7 linked regions of the Homo sapiens genome follow. The protein of the gene in region 2 purifies or fractionates together with the protein of the main gene of each other region. This does not show direct contact. Each region holds a gene or a part of one and is shown on either strand. Other genes may lie near its edges. The genes, in order: ADCK5, RCN2, FKBP10, OPA3, ZNF304, ZNF546 and PRELID3B.

Region 1 (3,500 bases), on a different chromosome or scaffold from region 2:
AGTTCCTTACTAGGTCCAGTGTTGAGGACCATGTTAGCGTCTGTGCCACGGGGCATGACTGGCTATGCACAGTCCTTTCCACCCAAACCGTGACTTGTGTGAAGAGCTCTCAGTTGGGGAATTTGGGGAGTTGTGAGACCTCATCCTAGGTCAAGTGTGATTGGGAGACCAAGGTTTCCAGTGAGAGCTGTGGTGTTTTCTTTCTTTTTTTTAATAATACTGTAAGTTCTATGTGGTGTTTTCATAGTCACAAAAATAAAGCAGGGCCATGTGTCAAGAGTCTCATGGTGGGGCTTCTTTATTTATGTATTTATTTTTCTAAATGGAGTCCCATTCTGTTGCCCAGGCTGGAGTGCAGTGTCTCAATCTTGGCTCACTGCAATCTCCGCCTACCAAGATCAAGCGATTCTCCTGTCTCAGCCTCCCAACTACCTGGGATTACAGGTATGCGCCATCACACCTGGCTACTTTTTTTGTATTTCTAGTAGAGACAGGGTTTCGCCATGTTGGCCAGGATGGTCTTAATCTCCTGACCTCATGATCCACCCGCTTTGGCCTCCAAAAGTGCTGGGATTACGGGCGTGAGCCACCGCGCCTGACCCTTGGGACTTCTTTACGTGTGTCCTGCTAGCTGCAGCATGTCCTCTTCTCCTCCAAGTAAAAGATGTACAGGGTCCCTGTCTGTGGGGTCTCAGTAAGTTGTAAGTTTCTTCATCTGCTTTCAGAACAGTGACCTACGTAGGCCACTCCTCCCATCCGGGCGTCCACCTTCAAGGTTGGCGTCTGCTGTATGATTCCATGGCTGGGCACTGTTGCCACTTCCTTCGGAGATGAGGACTGCTTTCCTCTGGCCACTGGTCAGTGGTCTCAGCAGCAGGAAATAGTAAAATAGTAAATGACAGGTCAGGGTGCTGCCAAGAGAGTGCAGGGGCAGGGATGGGGTGGGTCCCATCCCAGATGAGCCAGATGGTGATGCCATCTCTTCCTGCAGAGACTGAGGGGACATTCAGAGACGGGGTATGTTTGATGCCCTGTCAGCATCTGAGGCATCAGCCCTGGTTAAGCTGCGTTTAGCCTTCTCTCCTATGATACTTTGACACTCAGCCTTGCTCCCAGGAGGTAGGATAGTGTTTCCATTACGGAATCAAAGATGGGAACCTGGCTTCCTGGCATGATCCCAGCGGTGCTGGCAGTCTTTGCTGACTGACTTGGTGATGTGGTTTGGCTTTGTGTCCCCACCCAAAGCTCATCTGAGTCGCGATTCCCAGTGTTGGAGGAGGGGCCTGGTGGGAGGTGATCTGGTCATGGGGGCAGATTCCCCCTTGCTGTTGTGGTGATAGTGAGTGAGTTCTCAGATCTGATGGTTTAAAAGTGTGTGTGGCACTTTCCCCTTTGCCCTCTCGCTTGCTCTCTCTCTCTCTCCGCCCCCCCCACTGCTTCACCCATACTGTGCTTGCTTCCCATTTGCCTTCTGCCATGACTGTAAGTTTCCTGAGGCCTCTCAGTGGTGCTTCCTGGACAGCCTGCAGAACTGTGAGTCAGTTAAACCCAGGCCAGGTGCGGTGGCTTACACCTGTAATACCAGCACTTTGGGAGGCTGAGGAGGGCAGATCACTTGAGGTCAGGAGTTCTAGACCAGCCTGGCCAACATGGTGAAACTCCGTCTCTACTAAAATACAAAAATTAGCTGGATGTGGTGGCGTATGCTTGTAGTCCCAGCTACTCGGGGGGCTGGGGCAAGAGAATCACTTGAACTCGGGAGGCGGAGATTGTAGTGAGCCGAGATTGTGCCATTGCACTCCAGCCTGGGCGACAGAGTGAGACTCCATCTCAGAAAAACAAACAAACCTATTTTCTTCATAAATTACCCAGTCTTGCTTGGGTAGTTCTTTTTTTTTTTTTCTTGAGATGGAGTTTCGCTCTGTTGCCCAGGCTGGAGTGTAGTGGCGCGATTTCAGCTCACTGCAACCTCTGCCTCCCGGGTTCAAGCGATTCTCCTGCCTCAGCCTCCCGAGTAGCTGGGATTACGTACATGCACCACTATGCCCAACTAATTTTGTATTTTTAGTAGAGACGGGGTTTCACCATGTTGATCAGGCTGGTCTCAAACTCCTGGCCTCAGATGATCCACCCGCCTCGGCCTCCTAAAGTTCTGGGATTAAAGGTGTGAGCCCCTGTGCCCGGCCTGGGTAGTTCTTTAGAGCAGTGTGAGAATGGACTCACACATTAGGTTTAGAGTTAGGCTGCCTCAGACTCCAGCACATGTAAGTGCTGGTACTGGTTGAGGGCAGGGGCGTGTCCTGGCCTCGTTCGACCCCACACAATTTCCTCTCTTTGCAGGTGCAGCTCTGTCATTTCCACTCTGCTCTGCTGCACAGCAGGCAGAAGCCCTGGCCGTCCCCTGCTGTGTTCTTCAGGAGAAACGTCAGGGGCCTTCCTCCAAGGTAACGAGTCCTCCACGGGCATGCGCCTCTCACCCAGGCAGGCATGGATGGCGTCTGTGTGCATGCAGAGGTGGCAGTCGAGGGCCCAAGGCTGGACCTTCTCCTGTACCCACAACCAAGGCAGGATATGTTTGCTCCTCAGTGCGGTGCACTGGGACCAAAGACCCCCAGGGACCCATGGGACCGTGCTCAGGGGTGGGCACACCCTGATCACAGCATTTAGAGCAGACAGCTAGCAAATCGGGAAGGGTGCACATGGAGCGCCTGCTCTGAAGAGCAAACCGGGTCATTCAGAGCATGGAGGAGGGCGGGGTGACTATAGGTGGGAGTCACACAAGAGGAAGAGCAGCAAGAAGAGATGTGGAGGGATGGGTCTGAGCAGAAGGAAAGGCCAGACAATGTCCTGAGGCCAGCAAGTCCGGACCACAGTGCGCAGATGGACGGTGGCAAGGCAGGAAGGCCGTGGAGGGTAGATGTGGCCAGGCAGGGCAGGCAGGGTGAGCTGTCCAAGCGCCACTGGCTCAGTGAACCTGGCAGGGGTCTCCTTCTCCCGAGAGCTCTGCAGTAGGACAACCTGTGTCCCTGGGACAGATGCGGCCAGCTACAGAAACAGATGGGTGCTCAGGCGCCTGCGGCTGGGTGCAGAAACAGATGTGCACTCAGACACCTGCTGCACTCAGGATTATGGGCCGGGTGTAGAAACAGATGTGTGCTCAGGCACCTGCTGCACTAAGGATTATGGGCCGGGTGTAGAAACAGATGTGTGCTCAGGCACCTCCCGCAGTCAGAATTATGGGCCGGGTGTAGAAACAGATGTGTGCTCAGGCACCTCCCGCAGTCAGAATTATGGGCCAGGTGTAGAAACAGATGTGTGCTCAGGCACCTGCCGCAGTCAGGATTATGGGCCGGGTGTAGAAACAGATGTGTGCTCAGGCACCTGCTGCACTCAGGATTATGGGCTGGGTGTAGAAACAGATGTGTGCTCAGGCACCTGCTGCACTCAGGATTATGGGCTGGGTGTAGAAACAGATGTGTGCTCAGGCGCCTGCTGCACTC
Region 2 (3,073 bases):
GAGTTCAGGTACAACTTCAAAGGGGAAAATTGAATGGGATGTGCACATGTTGGCTCATATGTAGTTCTGATTGGGCCAATTTGCAGGACAGAAAATGATGTCTAGATTATGATATAAATTTAAAGGAAGCCAGGACGTTCAGAGGAAAAGCTAGCATATCATGTTTGCCTTACTTAGTTCTTTCCTTTGCAGTTTTAAAAATAGGCTTTTTTTTTTTTTAGTGTAGTTTTATGTTCACAGCAAAATTGAGCAAAAAGTAGTATAGAGAGTTTCAATATGTCCCCTGCCCCACATACGTACAGCCTCCCCCACTATCCTATCCTATATGTCATGAGATAGTACCTACCAGAGTGGTACATTTGTTAAAATCGATGAAACTGTTAACATATCATTGTCACCCAAAGTGCATAGTTTACATTAGGGTTCACTCTTGGTGCTGCACATGCTCTGGGTTTGGACAAATGTATAATTACATATTCCCACCATTGTAGTGTGGTAGAATATTTCCCTTGCCCTAAAGTCTTTCTGCTCCACCTATTCATCCCTCCCTTCCCTGTAACCCCAAGCAATACTGATCTTTTTACTGTTCATAATTTTTTAGATTGTAGTAAAATACACATAACAAAATTCATCTTAACAGTTTTTAATTGTACAGTTCGGTGGTATGGTATTAAATACAGTCAAAATGTGAAACTATTACCACCTTCCATCTCCATGAACTTCATTTGTAAAACGGAAATTTATACCCATTAAACAATAAAGCCCCCTTTCCCCTTCCCTTCAGCACCTGGCAAACACCATTCTAGTTTTTTTGTTTGAGATGGAGTCTTGCTCTTGTTGCCCAGGCTGGAGTGCAATGGCATGATTTCGGCTCACTGCAACCTCTGTCTCTTGGGGTCAAGCGATTCTCCTGCCTCAGCCTCCCGACTAGGTGGGATTACAGGCGGGCACCACCATGCCCCCTAATTTTTTGTATTTAGTAGAAATGGGGTTTCACCATGTTGGTCAAGCTGGTCTCGAACTCCTGATCTCAGGTGATCCACCTGCCTCAGCCTCCCAAAGTGCTGGAATTACAGGCGTGAGCCACCGTGCCCAGCCTCCCATTCTAGTTTTCTTTTTCTTTCTTTTTTGAGACGGAGTCTCACTCTTGTCATCCAGGCTGGAGTGCAGTGGTGCGATCTCGGCTCACTGCAACCTCCACCTCCCAGGTTCAAGCGATTCTCCTGCCTCAGCCTCCCAAGTAGCTGGGATTATAGATGCCCGCTACCACGCCCGGCTAATTTTTGTACTTTTAGTAGAGACGGGGTTTCGCCATGTTGGCATGGCTGGTCTCGAACTCTTGACCTCAGGTGATCCACCTGCCTCGGCCTCCCAAAGTGCTGAGATTACGGGCATGAGCCACCGCGCCCAGCCCCATTCTAGTTTGTGTCTATTAAAATAGACTCATATAGTATTTGTCTTTTTGTGAGTGGCTTCACTTAGCATAACGTCCCCAAAGTTCACCCATATTGTTACCAGAATTTCTTTCGTCAGGCTGAACAATACTTTATTGTTTGCATATACCACATTTTGCTTATCCATTCACCCTTTGATGGACACAGGTTGCTTCCACCTTTTATTGTGAATAATGCTGCCATGAATATGGGTGTACAAATATTTCTTTGAGATCCTGCTTTTAGTTCTTTTGGATATATATTATACATAGAAGTGGGATTGCTGGATCATATAGTAATTCTATATATATATATATATATATATATATATATATATATATTTTTTTTTTTTTTTTTTTTTTTTTTTTTTTTGAGACGGAGTCTCGCTCTGTCGCCCAGGCTGGAGTGCAGTGGCGCGATCTCGGCTCACTGCAGGCTCCGCCTCCCGGGTTCACACCATTCTCCTGCCTCAGCCTCCCGAGTAGCTGGGACTATAGGCGCCTGCCACCGCACCCGGCTAATTTTTTGTATTTTTAGTAGAGACGGGGTTTCACCGTGTTAGCCAGGATGGTCTTGATCTGCTGACCTCGTGATCCGCCCGCCTTGGCCTCCCAAAGTGCTGGGATTACAGGCGTGAGCCACCGCGCCCGACTAGTAATTCTATTTTTAATATTTTGAGGAACTGCCATAGTGTTTCCCACAGCAGCTGTGCCATTTTGCATTTCCACCAATAGTGCACAAGAGTTCCAGTTTCTTTACATCCTTACCAACACTTGCTATTTTCTGTTTTTTTTTTTTTCTTTTTTTTTTTTAATAGTAGCCATCCTGTTGGGTGAGACGTGGTATCTCGTTGTGGCTTTGATTTGCATTTCCCTAATGGTCTGTCTCTACAGTTTTGCCTGTTCCAGAATATCATTCCTTTGCAATTTAAATGTGAGGATAAATGTATGCTATTGTTTCTCAAACGTTTTTGTGTTACAATACCTCCTTTTGAGTGAGAAATGTCAACTCAAACTTACACTTTTTCACTTAGGAAGATGATTTAGGAAAGCCACTTAGAGTAAAAGTTTTTAAACAACTGTAAAAACTAATTTGCTTCATTGCAACATTTGAGTTCTGTCGAATAAATATTTGGCCAGATTTCCTGCCTGCTATAAAATTTTTTATAACTAGTAACCAATTACCTAAGGGCCTCCAGTGCAGCTACTAAAACGTCTCTATTTTATTTGGCGGGGGGGGGGGGAAACACCTCAATCCAAGCACAAAAAAAACAAGTACTGCTGAATACCTACAGTTTGCCCTATCTTTATCTCAAATTAACCAGTTAGTTCCTGAGCTGTAGAAAGGAAACCATTTGAGCTTATAAAACTATTTTAAAGTGATTATGGGGATTTTTAAAAATCTCATAGCTTTTAATCATGATTTTTCATACCTTAAAGAAAAAAACCCTACTTTTGCTTTCTGTTCCACAGAGATATTTTTCTTCTGAGACCAGGTTCCAATGAACAGAGGGCATCAACATTTTGCTCAGTTATTGTACCATTAGCAGTGATTGGTAACCTAAGTAGAGAGACTGTTCCATTACAATGACACACTAAAAGCATAAACTAAGGTCTTTTTGTGCCAGCTGCTGGCCTGTC
Region 3 (3,500 bases), on a different chromosome or scaffold from region 2:
GCATGCCTGTGATCCCAGCTGCTACTTCGGAGGCTGAGGCAGGAGAATCGCTTAAACCCGGGAGGTGGAGGTTGCAGTGAGCTGATTGCACCACTGCACTCCAGCCTGGGTGACAGAGCCGAGACTCCATCTCCAAAAATACATATGTATAAGTAAAAATAAATACATTAATTAAAAGTGTATAACTAAAAACAAACAAAAGCCATGGCACTTTTAGAATAGGCTTTTTTTTTTTTTTTTTTTTTTGAGAGGGAGTCTCACTCTGTCGCCAGGCTGGAGTCCAGTGGCACGATTTCGGCTCATTGCAACCTCCGCCTCCCGGGTTCACGCCATTCTCCTGCCTCAGCCTCCTGAGTAACTGGGACTACAGGCGCCCGCCACCACACCTGGCTAATGTTTTGTATTTTTAGTAAAGACGGGGTTTCACTGTGTTAGCCAGGATTGTAGAATAGGCCTTTTCAAAATGTGAAACCAGCTCCCACCCCACCTCTGCTCTCCCGTCTTTTCTTGGAGAGCCAATAGTATAATGGCAAATTTTAGAACTCAGCTGACTACATATTAGCTGTGTGACCTTGGGCAAGGCACTGAGTCTCTCAAGTCTCCATTGCTCTCATTAAGAAAAATGAGAACAAGAATGCCCACCTCACAGGGGAGACAAAGAAGATACGGAATGTAAAATGCCAAGCATTTAATCCCATATAGTAATGCTCCTCTGCCCCTCCGTGCTGTACGTACCACTCCCCACTTGCTGTCAGCAAATAGTAGCAGCCATCAGGCCCGGGCATCCCACCCAACCCCGTCCCAGGGCAATAGCAGCCCTTGTCCTCCTCAGGGACTTGCCTTTCACAACAGTCCGTTCTCTTAAGGTGGGCGTCACGGCCGACCTAGGAGGGGGACTTGAAAAGGAGGTGAGAAGTGTGTGTGCGTATCCACACCTGGCTATAGGGAGGGGGGATTGTGTGCGTGTGTGCAGGCACACCTGTGCATCTGTGCCACCATGGGCAGTGTGTGTGTGTCTGAGGTCACTGTATCCCATCTGTCCCTCCCCCCCCAGCTATGATCGCAACACCTTGGTGGCCATCGTGGTGGGTGTGGGGCGCCTCATCACTGGCATGGACCGAGGCCTCATGGGCATGTGTGTCAACGAGCGGCGACGCCTCATTGTGCCTCCCCACCTGGGCTATGGGAGCATCGGCCTGGGTGAGAAGGGCTGGGGCACAGGCCGGGGGTGGAGGAGACCACGAGGCAGAATCAGGGATCCTGGGGTGAGAAAACTGAAGTGCGGAGATGAGGAGTGACTTGCCCAATGTCACACTGTGCACGCAGTATGAAGAGTGGCAGCTCTGGCTGGGGCAGTAGCTGACATATATGGTCCCAGAGTTTTGGGAGGCCGAGGTGGGAGGATTGCTTGAACCCAGGAGTTCCAGACCAGCCTAGGCAACATAGTGAGACCTCGTCTCTACAAAAAATAAAATAAATTATCCAGGTGTGGTGGTGTGTGCCTGTAGTCCCAACTACTCAGAAGGCTCAGGTGGGAGGATTGCTTGACCCCGGGAGGCTGCAGTGAGCCATGATCATGCCACTGAATTCCACCCTGTGTGACAGAGCAAAACCCCTCTTTTTTTCTTTTTCTTTTTTTTTTTGAGACAGCATCTCACTCTGTTGCACAGGCTGGAGTTTAGTGGTGCGATCTCGGCTCACTGCAACCTCAGCCTCCTGGGCTCAAGCAGTCCTCCCTCTCAGCCTCCCAAATAGCTGGGACTACAGGTGCACACCACCACACGTGGCTAATTTTTTGTATTTTTAGTAGAGATGGGGTTTCGCCATGTTGCGCAGGCTGGTCTTGAACTCCTGGGCTCAAGCCATCCACCTGCCTTGGCCTCCCACAGTGCTGGGATAACAGGCATGAGCCACTGTGTCTGGCCCCCTATCTCTTAAAAAAAAAAAACAAAAATAGTGGCATCTCTGTCCCTGGTTTGGGTCTCTTGGTGCTGGGATGAGAGGAAGGGGAATAACAGGGCCCTGGCTGGGATCGTGGTTGGCAGAGCAGAACTCTGAGACCTCCACGCTGCTGCGCTCTCACAGCGGGGCTCATTCCACCGGATGCCACCCTCTACTTCGATGTGGTTCTGCTGGATGTGTGGAACAAGGAAGACACCGTGCAGGTGAGCACATTGCTGCGCCCGCCCCACTGCCCCCGCATGGTCCAGGACGGCGACTTTGTCCGCTACCACTACAATGGCACCCTGCTGGACGGCACCTCCTTCGACACCAGGTGAGGGGCTGGAGGGGAGCCCTGAGGCACTGGGGACTGTGGCATGGGGAGCGGGAATCCGGGGCCCAGCCTGCCTCTCCCACCTCCACCTCATTTTCTGCAGCTACAGTAAGGGCGGCACTTATGACACCTACGTCGGCTCTGGTTGGCTGATCAAGGGCATGGACCAGGGGCTGCTGGGCATGTGTCCTGGAGAGAGAAGGAAGATTATCATCCCTCCATTCCTGGCCTATGGCGAGAAAGGCTATGGTGAGGGTGGGCAAGGACACAAGGGGAAATTCCGCAGAAGAGGGAAAAACCAGGCCTCCACATACAGTTGCTCAGGTTGTATACTGCACGAGGGCATCCAACCAAGGACTCAAGGTGGGATGAAATCTACCCTTGGTGCTACTAAGAAGGGGTGCTTTGGCCGGGCGTGGTGGCTCACGCTTGTAATCCCAGCACTTTGGGAAGCCAAGGCGGGAGGATCACGAGGTCAGGAGATCGAGACCACGGTGAAACCCCGTCTCTACTAAAAATACAAAAAAATTAGCCGGGCGTGGTGGGGGCGCCTGTAGTCCCAGCTACTCGGAGAGGCTGAGGCAGGAAAATGACGTGAACCCGGGAGGCGGAGCTTGCAGTGAGCCGAGATCGCGCCACTGCACTCCAGCCTGGGTGACAGAGCGAGACTCTGTCTCAAAAAAAAAAAAAAAAAAAGAAGGGGTGCTTTATTCTGATTCACACGAAGGCTCAGTATGAGCCGGTGGTGGCCCTGGGGAAAACCCAGCTCAGGTCTTACTGGAGGAGCAAGAAGCAGGGCTGCTGATGGGCGGGAAAGGGCTCTGGAGAGTGGGGCTAGTGTCTTGCATGGTGCCCACTGGGCCTTCCTGAGTCAAGAAGGAGCCTCGGCTTGCTCCCCAATTTTATGGTTCAAGCCCTATCCCTTCCCCAGGGACAGTGATCCCCCCACAGGCCTCGCTGGTCTTTCACGTCCTCCTGATTGACGTGCACAACCCGAAGGACGCTGTCCAGCTAGAGACGCTGGAGCTCCCCCCCGGCTGTGTCCGCAGAGCCGGGGCCGGGGACTTCATGCGCTACCACTACAATGGCTCCTTGATGGACGGCACCCTCTTCGATTCCAGGTCAGGAGGGTCTTGAGGTGGGAGGGCGGGGGCTGGGTGAAACGTGGACGAAGCTGGGGGTCACTCTGAGCTGCCTGGAAGGGGAGGGCCCCTTTGACTCCCTT
Region 4 (3,500 bases), on a different chromosome or scaffold from region 2:
GGGCGAAGCCACCATCTTCATCGTGGGCGGCGGCTGCCTAGTGCTGGAGTACTGGCGCCACCAGGCGCAGCAGCGCCACAAGGAGGAGGAGCAGCGTGCTGCCTGGAACGCGCTGCGGGACGAGGTGGGCCACCTGGCGCTGGCGCTGGAAGCGCTGCAGGCGCAGGTGCAGGCGGCGCCGCCACAGGGCGCCCTGGAGGAACTGCGCACAGAGCTGCAAGAGGTGCGCGCCCAGCTCTGCAATCCCGGCCGGTCCGCTTCCCACGCAGTGCCTGCGTCCAAGAAATAGGAGCTTGCTGGATGGAACCTGAATTTGGACATGGCCTATGTACCTAACGTGGCCTTCTTCCCGCACCACCCTTGCCTGCGCTGGCCCAGTGGAAACCACCAGGATCTTGATGCAACTTGGCATTTGGTTACCCCTGCTGATAAGAGCAGCCGTTACCTGCCACTGGGACCAGCAGGTGAAGCGTTGCAACATAGCCCCCTCCATCATCCTTCACCTCCTATCCCCCACTCCAAACCAGGACGACCTGCAAGGTCCCAGCCAGCAGGACACCGTGGGCACTCTGGCAAATGAAAAAATGGAACCTGGTCTTGAGCTGAATCAATGTGTTATTGTTACCCCCACCCCCGGTTTACCTGATCAGTGTTAACCTTTACTGGGACACTCATCTGTTACACTGGAACACCTTCTTCTTTTTGTCAATCGGCACAGACCACTGTAAGGAAATGCAGTGTGTTGCAGTGGCCTTTTCTCCCCCTCACCTTCTAAGGTCAGCTCTAGCTGAGCATCAGTGCTCTCTTAAGGAGGAAAAAAACGGTGCGGCTGGGAGCGGTGGCTCACGCCTGTAATCCTAGCACCTTGGGAGGCCGAGGCGGGCGGATCACTTGAGGTCAGGAGTTCCAGACCAGCCTGGCCAACATGGTGAAACTCCGTCTCTACTAAAAATACAAAAATTAGCCGGGTGTGGTGGGGTGCGCTTGTAATCCCAGCTACTCGGGAGGCTGAGGCAGGAGAATTGCTTGAACCCATGAGGTGGAGGTTGCGGTGAGCCAAGATGGCACCATTGCACCCTAGCCTGGGCAACAGAGCAAGACACCGTCTTAAAACCAAAAGTTAACCGGGCGTGGTGGTGGGTGCCTGTAATCCTAGCTACTTGGGAGGCTGAGGCAGGAGAATTGCTTGAACTTGGGAGGTGGAGGCCAAGATTGTACCACTGTATTCCAGCCCGGGTGACAGAGCAAGACTGTGTCTCAAAAAAAAAAAAAAAATCCTGGCTGGGCACGGTGGCTCACACCTGCAATCCCAGCACTTTGGAAGGTCGAGGTGGGCGGGTCATTTGAAGTCGGGAGGTCGGGAGATCGGGAGCTCGAGACCAGCCTGACCAATATGATGAAACCCCGTCTCTACTAAAAATACATAAATTAGCTGGGCATGGTGGCATGCACCTGTAATCCCAGCTACTTGGGAGGCTGAGACAGGAGAATTGCTTGAACCCGGGAGGCAGAGGTTGCAGTGAGCCGAGATTGCGCAATTGCATGCCAGCCTGGGTAACGAGCAAAACTCCATCTTAAAAAAACCCACAAAAGGTCCTGGCCTGCAGTCAATCCCTGGAATCATTGTACCTTCCCTTGAGACCCGAAGTGGACTATTCCAACAGAACCCCCTCATCCTTGAGTCTATGGCACAACCCACTGGAATGGCACTACAGGATCTTTTCTGTGAATGTCCTCCAACCCCCCTTTCCGTGGTGGGAAATTTGATCCTAACTAGGGCTAATCCAGCCTGTCCTTCAGCCTCAGCCCCCTATTTTCCTGTCCTCAGAGTCCCTGGAGCTTGTACTGTGTGGCATGTCCTTTCTTGCCTTCCCCACCTTGCTCAGTAGCATTTCTCAGGGACCCAGTCGAATCCAAGCCCATGGATTCAATTGTCACATCCTTCATCTTCCATCCGTGTCTCCTAATCTGTGTGCTCTTGCTTTCTTTCCTCGGAGCTCTGGACTGACCCGACAGCCTGTCTTCATGTAGCAGTACCCTCCTGCCTCCATAGCCCCCGGTCCCACCCCCATCCTACCAATTAGGCCAGCAGTTGGCCTTAACTGCTTGATTAATTTCCTTGGACTGCCATAACAGATCACCATTGGGTGGTGAACTTGATGGCTTAAGTCCAACAGGAATTTAATTCACACAGTTCTGGAGTCCAGAAGTCTGAAACCAAGGTGCTGACAGGGACACGCTCCCTCTTCCAGCTCCTGGTGATTCCAGGCCTTCCTTGGCTCTGCCTGCAGCTTCACATGGCCTTTTCCCTCTTCTATTTTGTCTCTTACAAGAACACCTGTCATTGCATTTAGGGCCCATCTTAAGTTCAGGATGATCCCACCTCAAGACCCTTAATTACATCTGAAAAAACACTTTTTCCAAATAAACTGTCATAAGCACAGGTCCTGGGGGTTAGTATGTGGACTTGTCTGTTGGGGGCACACCATTCAAGCCATTCAGCCCACTATTCCTCCTCACCCCAAGAGTACGCTGGCGTCCAGGTGCAGTGGCTCACACCTGTAATCCCAGCACTTTGGGAGACCAGGGCAGGAGGGATCTCTTTGAGCCCAGGAGCTGAAGACCAGCCTGGGCAACATAGTGAGACCCCATCTCTACAAAAGTAAAATAAAAAATTAGCCAGGTGCGGTGATGCATGCCTGTAGTCCCAGCTACTTGGGAGGCTGAGGCAGGAGGATCACCTGAGCCCTGGAGGTCGAGGCTGCAGCGAGCCGTGATCGCGCCACTACACTCCAGCCTGGATGACAGAGTGAGACCCTTTCTCAGAAAAAAAGTACCCTGGGACTCCTGCCAACCCCGCGGGCCATTTGGCCTTCCTGCTAGCTGAGAGGAACAGTCTAGGAACCACCCTTTTCTACTGGGTTTCTCTTCCAGGATCTGCCACTGAAGCGGGAGGGGGTGGGTCCCAGTAGCCTGCAGTCTGTCCTTCCGACTGTAGCTCTCTCATTAGAGGAGCTGCAAGGTGATGAAGGCATCCTGAGGCTGTACCTGAACCACCATGTGGATCTCCACAATGGGTACAGAGCTTATTAAAATCAGGAGGGAAACTGGGAGGGTTCTGATGGGGAGAGGCCCAAGAGTCACCCTATGAGCTGGGGAAACTAAGGCCAGGGGTAAGCAAAGGGACTTGCCAGAGATGCCACAGCCAGTGAGGGGCTGACTGCCCAGGGTGGTGAAGTAGTAGGGGCAGAGTGAGAGGCTTGGATTACCCCAGCTGCAGAGTGAGGAGGGAGAGGCGATGGCTGAGCAGAGGCTGGGAGGGTGACGATCTCTACACAGAGGCCCAGACCATCCCAGAGGTGGCGTTGATAGTGGGAGACCCTCTCTATCCCCTCTCAGAGCAGCCCCAGATCACACCAGAGATCATAGCATTGTGTAAACTGGGTGACCATTCCACCTGGGCCCGCTTTTGGGAAGCTGCAGGTGAAAGTGGGAGGGCC
Region 5 (4,078 bases), on a different chromosome or scaffold from region 2:
CCATCTCTACTAAAAATACAAAATTAGCCGGGCATGGTGGCGGATGCTTGTAATCCCAGCTACTCGGGAGGCCGAGGCAGGAGAATCGCTTGAACCTGGGAGGGAGAGGTTGCAGTGAGCTGAGATCGTGCCATTGCACTTAAGCCTGGGCAACAAGAGTGAAACTCTGTCTCAAAAAAAAATTATAACTATTATCTATGATGCTATTTGATGAGTGAGGGAATAATTGTACTTTTTTCTTTTTTTTTCAAAATCACACTGATCCTGAAAAGGTGGATCTTTGATTTATCTTCCTAAAGCAGTGTATGTGAGAACCTTGTGTTGAGGAAGACTGATAACAGCTTGTATGTATTTAGCACGATGTGCCAGGCCTGGTGTTAAGTACTTTTTACCTCACTTCCCATATTCCTAATGAGGTTGGTTGTAGTGTTTTTCATCTTACTGATTTTTTTTTGTTTGTTTTTGTTTTGTTTTGTTTTTGGCTAATGACTTTAAAAGACCTCCAGTTCTTGAACTTCAGCTAGGGTCCCATCCCCAGAGTTTATCAGAAGGTATAGGTTGGGTCCAAGAATTCACAGGTTTTTTAAGTTCATAGTGAAGCTGATGCTGTAAAACTACATATCAAATTGGGAAGCAATGAATTAGAAGAGGCTCATGTTTTCGTCATGTTACATGTAAGTTCCTCCTTCACTTTTCGCCATGAATAAAAGTTCCCTGTGGCCTCACCAGAAGCAGATACGGGCACCATGCTTCCTGTACAGCCAGCAGAAAGGTAGCTAATTACATCTCTTTTCTTTATATGTTAGAAAAATTAGAAGGACATTCAATGTTTTACAAAAAGGCCCACAAACGAAATACAGACAACGTTCAATTTATTAATACGTTTCAATCCCCAAATCTGAGAGAGGTGAAGCAGGTTTCCCAGGGCCTCAGAAGCAGGATTGAAGAATGGGTCCCTTGCTGGCGACTTCAGTGGCGTGGCATTGTCCCAGGTGGCCATGGAAATCAGGGTGCATACCCTTTAAAAGCAGCTGTGGCCTCCGAGATATCGTTTTCCCAGTCTTTTCTCCCCCTCCCTGCACGACGCCTCTTGGCAGACATCCGGGAGAACCCGAAAGGCGCTCGTTGCCTGGTTGGATGCAGGGTACAAACTACGTTACCCAGAAATCTGTGCCCAGCTCATTGTTAGCCGGCGTGCAGCCAATGACAGCCCAGAAACTGGGCGTTTCCTGCTGCTCTGGGCTGCAGGGGCGAGACTTCTGGCGTCGCCGTCGTGACGTATTTTTCCTATGCCCGGTCCGTGCATTCTGGTTGTGAAGGCTGAGTTCTAGAGATCGGGTCGGCTTTCTACGCGGCTCTCGTGGAACCTAGCAAAGAAAGACAGTGAAGACTGCAGGACCTTCCTTCGCGCTTTTGTTACAATCCATGACCCCTGTCGTGGGACGGGCGGCCTCTCGCGGAGGTGTCTGCCGGGGCTGGGCTCTTACCGAGGCCTCCACACACGTCCTCTTGTCCTTGTCTCCCCCAGAAGCAGCCGCCTTAGTCTTGTGAGCGTTTTTACACCGGGTAGATTGAGACTTGGAGTGCTACACTCAGCCCGAGGGCGTCCAGCGCGGTGGAGGCGTGGGGTTTCGGCTGAGCCCACAGGGCACAGACTGTTCATCCGCTTCTCATGGCAGCGGCGGTGCTGATGGACCGGGTTCAGGTGAGTGGGGGCATCCCTCAAGCGCACCCCGGCCTGGTTGGTGTGTCCTGGGATGTTCGCTCTCATCGCGCACTTCAGGGTGCTCACTCCGTCGCATTATGTGGAGGGGTTCCGCTCCCCTCATCAGTGGCATAAGGTGTGGAACGGACTCGAAGGCGCAGGGGCAGTTCGTACAAATGCATGCATGGAGAGGAGAATGAGTTTGGGGAGTTCCGGGAACTCTCTGTGCCTGGTGAGAACAGGGACTAGGGGGTCAGAGGTAGGCCTGGAATGGCCGCCCGAGGAGCTGGTCCTCTCTTCTGAGGGTGCTGGGAGTCATGCAAGGTTTGGTACAGAGAAGGGAGGTCCTCTGACGCAGTTCTTAAAAGGCTCCCTCTGGCTGCAGAGTGGGTAGACTAGGGATTATAGGGTAGACGGGGAGATCAAGATGAAGTCTACTGAAATAGTCCAGGTGAGCGTTGATGGTCTGGGCCAGAGTGGTGGCAGCAGAGGTTAGAGAATGTATGGGTTTTGGGTTTTGTATGTATTTTATAAGGAAGGCTGACCAGATTCTCTGATGAGACATAGTGATGATATCCTGGGATTCTTCACATGACTGTCTTCACTTGAGACAGGGGGCAGTGAATGGAGGTCATTTCTAGTTTAGTGTCCTGAATCCAGGCCATGAGTTGTATGGAGTTATGTGGAGAAGTCCCCACCTGGCGACCAATGGGATGAGTACTGCAAAAGTATATCAGACCTAGGAACAGGTACGCTCAAATGCTTGTAGGATTGAGTTTGGAGCGCTCAGGGAATCTCAGGTCTTAATTACCTTTGTTGGAAACAGGTATCAGAGGAAGGAGTTAGGCAGGAATGGCTGGCCGAGGTGTCTTGAGTGTGGTAAAAGTCGTGGGAGATTTGGAGCAGAGGAGGGAGATGATCTGACTCAGATTTTAACATGCTCTCTCTGGCTTTCAGGTTGAGAACAGACTGTGAGCATGAGGGAGCAGCTACTGCAGTAGTGTTGATGGTGTCTGGTCTAGAGGTGTGGCTGTGGAGGTGAGAGAAGTTGGTAAATTTTCTGTTTTTTAAAGTAGGGTGATTGGATTTTTTGATGCGAAAGGTGAAAGAGAGGAGAGTCGTGGATGACCCTAAGGTTGGTTTGTTTTTGCTGTAGCTGGTAAAATTATGAAAATGCCATCAACTGAGATAGAGAAGTTGGCAGCAGGTATGATTTTTAGTGGTTATATCAGGAGTTAGGCTTTGGTCATGTTTAGGTTAAGAGGTCTCAGTTGTCATCTTAGTTGAGGCCTCAGGAAAACACACAGGTTTTTAGTTCTGGGGAAGGGTTCTGTTGAAGAAGTTGAAAAAAATGGTGGCCAGTGTGTGGAGTGGGATGGGGTATCTTCAAATCATGGTGGTAATGCTGTTATTCAGTAAGAAAGTTGAAACTGGACACTGAGAGAAAACTGGGTCTGTTGCTTAGGCACCTGGACGGCAGTGGTGGATAGTGTGAAGACGCGAGCGCTTCCTGGACACTGCTTGCAGAGTGGCATGGGGGATGAGGGATGTCATGGAGGTGCATATGGCATGGGCCAGTGGCGGTGGGGATCTCAGATGTGAGGAAGGTGTAGTCCAAAGAGTAATGAGCACGTTGGGAGGAGTGTGAACTGATGCCCTTAAGACTCTAGTATTGGCAGCTCATGGGAGAAGATGGAGCTGAAGTTTGGTTGTGTTTAGAGGCATCGTCTGGACAACACCAGGAGAACTGGTTGGTAGGCGAGTATTTGGGACCCTTCATGCCAGACCCAGAGTTGAGACAGCATCTGTCTGCACACTTGCCTGGTTCTGCTCTGGGCTGGACACAGTGGTGAGAGGGACATGAGGAGAGAGCAGACACTAGTGGTGCCAAGGTCTGTTATCTCCTCTTAGTTGGGAGGCTGGGGAGGCGAGGGACTAGAGAGTGGGTGTGTGAGTGTGTAGACTGGGGAGGAGGGGGTTCTGGGGAGAGATGCTGACTGTGGACTCAGCTGTACTTATCATGGCAGAGTTGTGTGACCTTCGAGGATGTGTTCGTGTACTTCTCTCGGGAGGAGTGGGAACTCCTTGAGGAGGCACAGAGATTCCTGTACCGTGATGTGATGCTGGAGAACTTTGCACTTGTGGCTACACTAGGTAAGTCTGTGTTTTAGTTATCTAATGCTACATGGCAAATTATCCCAAAGCTTAGTAACTGCAAACAATAAAAATCAATTATCTCTCCAGTTTCAGTGCATTGGTAATCTGGTTAGAGCATTTTTTGTTGTTTATTATTTTGAGGGTTTTTTTTTTGTTTTTTGTTTTTTGTTTTTTCAGAGAGTCTTACTCTGTCACCCAGGCTACAGTGCAGTGTTG
Region 6 (3,500 bases), on a different chromosome or scaffold from region 2:
AACCTGTCTGTGCCCCAGGGCAGCTTTGAATGCAGTCCAACAGAAATTTGTAAGCTGTCTTAAAACATGAGATTTTTTTTGTGATTTTTTTTAAGCTCATCCGCCATTGTTAGCACATTTTATGTGTAGCCCAAGATAATTCTTCTTCCAGTGTAACCCAGGGAAGCCAAAAGATTTGACCCCCAGTAACTTCACACCTAAGGAGATTAGCAATAATTCCATAATCTGTAATATTCAGTCTGTGTTCATATTCTCAGTTGTGTTCATTCTTTTCATTTGTGTAAACAATGCTTTTCATAGGTTATTTTTAAATTCAGGAACCAAATTCATGAATTACATTTGTGCATTGTTCGTCTCTTTTAAAGTAAGAATGGCCCTTCCCCCCACAACTTTATTGCAACATTGACTTTTTTTTTTTTTTTTTTTTTTTTTTTTTGAGATGGAGTCTCTGTCGCCCAGGCTGGAGTGCAGTGGTGCGATCTTGGCTCACTGCAAGCTCCGCCTCCCGGGTTCAGGCAATTCTGCCTCAGCCTCCCCAGTAGCTGGGACTACAGGCGCCTTCAACCATGCCCGGCTAATTTTTTGTATTTTTAGTAGAGACGGGGTTTCACCATGTTAGCCAGGACGGTCTCGATCTCCTGACCTGGTGATCTGCCCGCCTCAGCCTCCCAAAGTGCTGGGATTACAGGCATGAGCCACCGCACCCGGCCTTCCCAAAGTATTTTTAAATGTGCTTTTTTATCCCCAGTATTTCCCATTAACTGGAATTTGGGATTAGAGACCCAATTAGGGACAGATTAAATATTTTGGCAAGAATACTTAATGGGAGAAATTTTGTATTTCAATTTGTAACCCATTAGGTGGCATACAATGTCATTATACCACTATGGTATCCTTAGTTCATTCACTTGGTGTAGCAGAACATACATTCCAAAGATGGCCACACCAATATATCCCATTCTGCATGTTCATCTTACAATGTGATACCAACACTCCCCAAGAGGTAGAGCTCATGGTCCTTCCTTTTGAATCTGGCCAGGTGGGCCTGTGTTTATGGCAGGAATAACACTGTGATTTCCACGACTAAGTCATAAAAGGCAATACAGCTTCTGCCTGACCCACTTGGGATGAAGCCCAGCCACCATGCTATGAAGATGCCAAGTAATCACATAGAAAAGCTAAGTAAAGCTGTCCTGATTACAGCTGTAATTGAGGTAACAGCCGGGATCCAGCACCAAGTGTATGAGGGTATGAGCCTTCAGATGATTCTAACCCTTAGCCTTCAGGCTATCCTAGCTGGTGCTAAGTGGAGCAGAGAAAAGCTTTCCCCCATGAGCCTGCCCAAATTGCAGATTTACGTTTAAAATATGGCCTGTTTTAAGCCACTAAGTTTTGGAGTAGTTTGCCACACAGCGATAGGTAACTGAAATACTTGCTTCATATGGTAATCACCAGGTTTCTCTGTTGTAGAGCTAAATATTTCTTTTAATTTAGTAAACGATCTGTAGAGTAGTACTTTGGCATTTCGGAAATTTAAAATCTCCAATAATATAATGACACTAGATCAAAAAGAAAATGAAACCATAAAGGACAATTTAGAAATGAATGGTAAGATCAGAATTTGTGAATGTGGCCAAACCTGTGCTCAGTGAAAAATCAGTAACCTGTTAATATATTCAGGAAACAAATATTGAGGGCCAGCACTTTGTTTCTCCTGCTCACCACTCTACTCCCAGTGACTTAATACTGTCTCTTTAACATAGTAATCACTTATAAAACTGTTAAAAGAATGAAGAAGCATTAAACTCAAGAAACTAAGGGAAAAATAAGTCAATATAAGAAAGAAGGGAGGATCATTAAAAGGAGTTAATGAATTTGAAAATAAAATAGACTTATTAAGGCTTTGTGAAAAAATATTAATACTTGATTTTAGTATAGCTAATCAAAGGAAAAAGATAATTACAGCATTGTGAATGAGAATTGGATGTAAGTACAGATGGAGGAGATATTTTTTGTTTTATTGAAAATTTCAAGGAGGAAGTAATATCAAAATTTCACTAGCTCTTTCTACACTGATATTATAATCCTGATAATACAACAGATGAGGATAGTTCTTAAAAGGCAAAAATGTAGGTGAGTCATTACGAAGAAAGCAGAAATTCTAAACCATCAGCACATTCATTCAAAAACCTAGTAAAGCAATTAAGCAAAATAATTTGTTTACTTGGACTGTCCAGGGATAGATCTGTTCTAGTTTTCCAAATTAATGATGGGAAAGGAAGAGCTGATCCAGTCCAAGTATCTTCAAGATCCATGTTCTCAGTTTTTCTTAGCTTTAAATGGCCAAATTGTGGCTTAGATTGGATATGATAATTTCCTCAATGCTTAACACTGAGCACAATTTTTCACATATTTGAAATCAAGGTGTATCTTACAATTTATGGCATCTGACAATACTTCCAACCAGGTGGCAGTCATCAAGCAGTTTTGTGAAAAGCCTTCCCGGTAAGAATACAAAAGCATCTGCACCAAAATATATAGATTTAATGGCATGTAGGGGTTTGCGTGAATATATACAGTTGAAATTCAATTCTTCCTTAAAAATAATTGTAACTCATTTCTTTAAGACTACCATACTACCACTTTCCTCAACTTGGACTAATGTCCATTGTCAACCAAAATGTCTGTGATCTCATGGATCCATTATGATTTGCAACTCCAGGTCCATTTTATGCAAATAAGACAGCCATAATATATCATTGTACAAGTCATTTACTATCTAATTATATCATTGCTCAACATTTGCAAATTATTTTTACAAATAACAATAATTGGATGTAACAAAAAGCAGAGTATTTTGAGACGTATATTAATGCAAAATATTGTTAATGTATCAGTGGATTGTTCCTCCAAAGTACCAGTGCCTTAACACAACATATCTAAAAGAACATCTCTGGGAACAGTAGTACTTAATGGCAACTTGAGAATTGGTTTGTGGGCACACAGCCTTGTGAAGTTTTGAATACTAAATCCCTTTTTTAAAAAAGTGCTTATTATCAGGCTATCAATCAAAAGATTTGAGTCTTTCAGTAAAGAAAATTTGCTTAATTTTATCTAGTGCATGATAAACTTTACTAAGGAAGTCTCATTCAGAATATCTAATATTTTGGATGTGAGCCCACACTGGAAATGCCATAACCAAAAAAGAGTGACCCTAAAGATAGAATATTCAGATCTAATGGCAGATGCTTAGCTATGCTGGGAAAGGAAGTGAATTGTATATTGCTCTGCTGCTCACATATTCCTCTGCAATAAATTGCTGGCCCAGTTTAGTTTTTATATACTCACTACTATACTAATGAGGATGGCTCAATTTTTTATTTGAACGTACTATAATGAATTTAAACTTTCATTGGTATTTATGTTTTAACAGGTTTTCACTATTTCAAATATACTTCAATAAATATCCTTGTCTGTGATCATTGGTTTATGTGAATTGG
Region 7 (3,500 bases), on a different chromosome or scaffold from region 2:
AAAGGCTAAAAGTTAGAGCTTGGATGTGAACCCAGAGCCTTTGTAAGTAACTGCCCAACGTGCTGCAGTTTCCTATGGTAGAATGGGCAAGGGTCAGCTTACAAGGACACACATGCAGTCAGCACCCCATTCCATTCCCAGGAAATGAACCAGGGAATAATAACCAAGAAGCAGCCTCACTTACTTTACTAGCATTTGAGGATATCGTACTTGCCATCAGTCCTTCAAGGTAACTGCTGAGGCTAACTCCTTTCACGGTAATTATGGCTTCTTGTGTCAAAACAGTTCTGGAACAAAACATATTCACACAGGTTCAGATGACCCAGCTTTCATTTTCAAAAAACTTGATAAAAAAACCTTAAACACCCTTTACGATACATTTGTTAAAATATTTTTTACTCACTTTTCTGGATCCTGAGGATGTGGTTTGTATATAAGTCTCTCATCTACTGAAACCATGTTTGTAAATGAAATCTACAGAATGAAGAAAAAAAAAAAAGATCAAATCATTTTGGAACTGAAGATTCAAAATGTTGCTAAAATCAACACACAAGCCAAAATCTTACTAAACATACAAAACAACAAATAAACCGCTGCTATTATTGCATAAACTATTCACTGCCTACTTTTTATTTAAAAAGCAAAGTTGAGGAAATAAAGTATAATAATGATAATACACATAATCCCAAACTCATTTTATTGAGTGCTATCCCCTTAGAGATAGGCAAGATCATGAGAGCAGGAAGGGTAAGGAAGCAACATCCAGGGCCAAGTTAGGCCAGCACATAAGCAGGGATTCTCTGAACCACATCATGAACACGCACTCACTTCTACGGCAACTAGGAGAGGGACAAAGAACTCAGCCAGACAGTTCGAAATGAAACAAAAGGGAGCCAAGACTTACATTAGTAGATTTAAGTTCCATTGTTTTCTCTACAGGATCAACTACAGAATGTTCTTGCACATATGTTTTCGTTCTTGCTGCACCAATAAGCTAAGTAAAACATTCAGAACTAGGAATCAGAGGAGGAAGAATTTCTTACCAAGTCTATCAATATTTTATTTGAAGGAAAAAATGTGTTACAATATTTTGAACCAAAAATCTGTTTTCTAAAAACCAGAGGAAACAAGCAAAGGTCAGAAAGGAGGCCTATTCACATATCATGGATGAGAGGAGACTGCCAGACACAAAAACTTTTCCCGGAGGCAATTAGAAACCAGCCCACTGAGAACGTCTGCAACGTGAGGCAGCACGCTGAATCTGCCGCGGTGCGACGGTGGAGCGCTGAGGCTGAGATATGGAAATCAGGTTTGGGGCAACATGGCAGCTAGAAAAAGGAGAACTCAAAGGCATCTGTCAGTATCTTCCTAGAACAGCCCAAGGGAGGGGGCACCTCAGCTTCATTCTCCAGACAGAAAAACAGCGTTCTTACGATGGAGGCTCACACGTCAGTGTCCACTGTCACTCCCTGTGCTATGACCCCAAGCCCACCCCCTGACCCTGCTCATTTCTGTGTCTGCACTATGGTTTGCATAAGGAGGCAGTAAGTACATTCCTATTGAAAATGTGTACTTTAGTTTTCTTAGTGAACCTACTCTCCATAAAGAGACCCTCTAAAGAAACCTGGATCCACTTATTATACCAGTTTTCTCGCATTATGGTAAACTGGCATTTTAGTTTCTTCCTGGTAAAATCTGCTCACTAAAGCCTGCTCATTCTTAAGGGAATAGAATTGTTTCTAAATGTACAGGAAGGAGTTCCAGACCTTGGAACAAATGTGGCAATAACAAGTCCGAGAACATAGTCCTTACTTAATGTACACAACCCACCACTGACCACAGAACTGTCACCTAACAATTATGACCAGACCATTACTGCCAAACCTTAGTATTGGTCTCAAGTTGCTGGCAAAAGCAGAAAAAGCAGAATAGAACTCCTTTCAGATCACACGGCATTAGCTGGCTTCCTTAAGAAAATTTTATTGGGTGCCTTCATGAAGACTGTAATAATATTTCCAATTCATTATACACTCATAATTCAAGTTTATTATAATACAACTTGAACGGATGCAAAAAATGACATTCAGAATCGGCTCCCACAACCTATTTGAAAGTATAATGCGGTTTAGAAAACTTCTCTACAGCAGTCACATTTCTCCGGGAATAAAGACACACTTACAGACTTCACAATGGAAGGCAGTCCCCACTCTGTGCTGAGAAGTCTGTGGCTGTGCAACTTTCCAGAGGGATCTATATGTCTGTCCAACACATCAACTCCAACCACACTTGGGTTCATAGGGTTTGGGTATTTCTGCATTGCAGCTGTTGTAACAGTTTCCCACGGGTGGCTGCCGATGTGAACCAAAAAAAAAAAAAAAAAAATTCAGACATTTAAAATTATGCATATGAGTTAAACAATTTTTATAATCTATCAAATCATTCATTACAATGTAAGTTTAATGAGTTTACCTAGGAAAAATTACCTTCTGAAACACTGATGATTATGGGAAACTGATCTACATTTTTAACAGGCTTCAGTATTTTTCCACAATACAGGCTATGTAAAAAAACTCATATCTATAAAGATCAAAGCAGTCTACACCATCTTTCCTACTTATCCTTATCCACTTTCACATGTAAATTGTTTCTAGGAAGAACCAATGATTCATGAAAATGTATTTAAAAATTATGTTCTACTGAAACAAATAGCCAAAAGTATCATTATGCCATTTATTATTTTTTCTGACCCCAATTCTATCAGTTTATACGGAAGTAACAAAAGTAAAAGAGTTTATGGGCACTATAAATTCTTACAGGGATCACAAAAAGATCCAAAGCATTGATTTAATTATTGAACTTTCCCTTCATTTTAATGTAATACATAACAATGGCTCCTCCAGTCAATCTTTATCTACTGTTTTTCTCAAAAGAGTGATTCTGATTTCTGTTTTGAAAAGGTCACTCAATATAATAAAATGTCCTTAAGGTGCACTCCTAATATACTATTTTCTAATATTCTCTTTTAATATAATAAGCACTTGCTTATCACCTAGTATTGAAGTGGTAATAATATCACATCACTTGAGAACTTGCAGTATCTTTATTTTCTTCAAAAAGGCACATGTGCTTGGATGATTCAAAATGTGATGCAACCTTTGTTCACTTCACAACTTCTGTGAATAAGACACTTGTACAAAAAATATCATTTTCAAAAGGACCCCTTATTAAGTACAATCAGTATTAAAGGTGACTTAGTCCACCTGCAGTCTGATTCGGATGCTTTCTACACTACTTATCTGTGCTCTCATCTTCATTTAAAGGAAAAAGACAAGATCTGGGGATGATGTTCAAGCCACAATGACTGTTAAGCCACACAGCATTACTTTTTATTTTTCTAAAAGTAAAACAAGTAGACATTATTCCAACCTTTTAGAGAACTCAGATTGACAACTACATCTCGTTGACAAAAGGAAAATCTCAACTCCATTAATTTCCCAGAA

What was found.
Region 1: the proteins of RCN2 (region 2) and ADCK5 purify together in Homo sapiens (co-immunoprecipitation; one large-scale study listed by IntAct). This does not show direct contact.
Region 3: the proteins of RCN2 (region 2) and FKBP10 fractionate together in Homo sapiens (co-fractionation; one large-scale study listed by BioGRID). This does not show direct contact.
Region 4: the proteins of RCN2 (region 2) and OPA3 purify together in Homo sapiens (co-immunoprecipitation; one large-scale study listed by IntAct). This does not show direct contact.
Region 5: the proteins of RCN2 (region 2) and ZNF304 purify together in Homo sapiens (co-immunoprecipitation; one large-scale study listed by IntAct). This does not show direct contact.
Region 6: the proteins of RCN2 (region 2) and ZNF546 purify together in Homo sapiens (co-immunoprecipitation; one large-scale study listed by IntAct). This does not show direct contact.
Region 7: the proteins of RCN2 (region 2) and PRELID3B purify together in Homo sapiens (co-immunoprecipitation; one large-scale study listed by IntAct). This does not show direct contact.

Annotation. Positions count from the first base shown.
Region 1 is NC_000008.11:144,377,047-144,380,546, forward strand, and holds part of ADCK5 (uncharacterized aarF domain-containing protein kinase 5), read left to right. Parts: intron 1-350; exon of another isoform or gene 351-444; intron 445-2,340; coding exon 2,341-2,444; intron 2,445-3,500. UniProt on the Homo sapiens protein: The function of this protein is not yet clear. It is not known if it has protein kinase activity and what type of substrate it would phosphorylate (Ser, Thr or Tyr).
Region 2 is NC_000015.10:76,951,821-76,954,893, forward strand, and holds the end of RCN2 (reticulocalbin-2 isoform a precursor), read left to right. Parts: 3' UTR 1-2,573; downstream 2,574-3,073.
Region 3 is NC_000017.11:41,816,004-41,819,503, forward strand, and holds part of FKBP10 (peptidyl-prolyl cis-trans isomerase FKBP10 precursor), read left to right. Parts: intron 1-1,054; coding exon 1,055-1,200; intron 1,201-2,085; coding exon 2,086-2,275; intron 2,276-2,378; coding exon 2,379-2,524; intron 2,525-3,206; coding exon 3,207-3,396; intron 3,397-3,500. UniProt on the Homo sapiens protein: PPIases accelerate the folding of proteins during protein synthesis.
Region 4 is NC_000019.10:45,550,303-45,553,802, reverse strand, and holds part of OPA3 (optic atrophy 3 protein), read left to right. Parts: coding exon 1-289; 3' UTR 290-3,500. UniProt on the Homo sapiens protein: May play some role in mitochondrial processes.
Region 5 is NC_000019.10:57,349,993-57,354,070, forward strand, and holds the start of ZNF304 (zinc finger protein 304), read left to right. Parts: upstream 1-1,278; 5' UTR 1,279-1,672; coding exon 1,673-1,705; intron 1,706-2,662; exon of another isoform or gene 2,663-2,743; intron 2,744-3,732; coding exon 3,733-3,859; intron 3,860-4,078. UniProt on the Homo sapiens protein: Acts as a transcriptional regulator and plays a role in gene silencing.
Region 6 is NC_000019.10:40,017,560-40,021,059, forward strand, and holds the end of ZNF546 (zinc finger protein 546), read left to right. Parts: 3' UTR 1-3,479; downstream 3,480-3,500. UniProt on the Homo sapiens protein: May be involved in transcriptional regulation.
Region 7 is NC_000020.11:59,036,287-59,039,786, forward strand, and holds part of PRELID3B (PRELI domain containing protein 3B), read right to left. Parts: intron 2,349-3,500; coding exon 2,180-2,348; intron 995-2,179; coding exon 905-994; intron 475-904; coding exon 404-474; intron 288-403; coding exon 185-287; intron 1-184.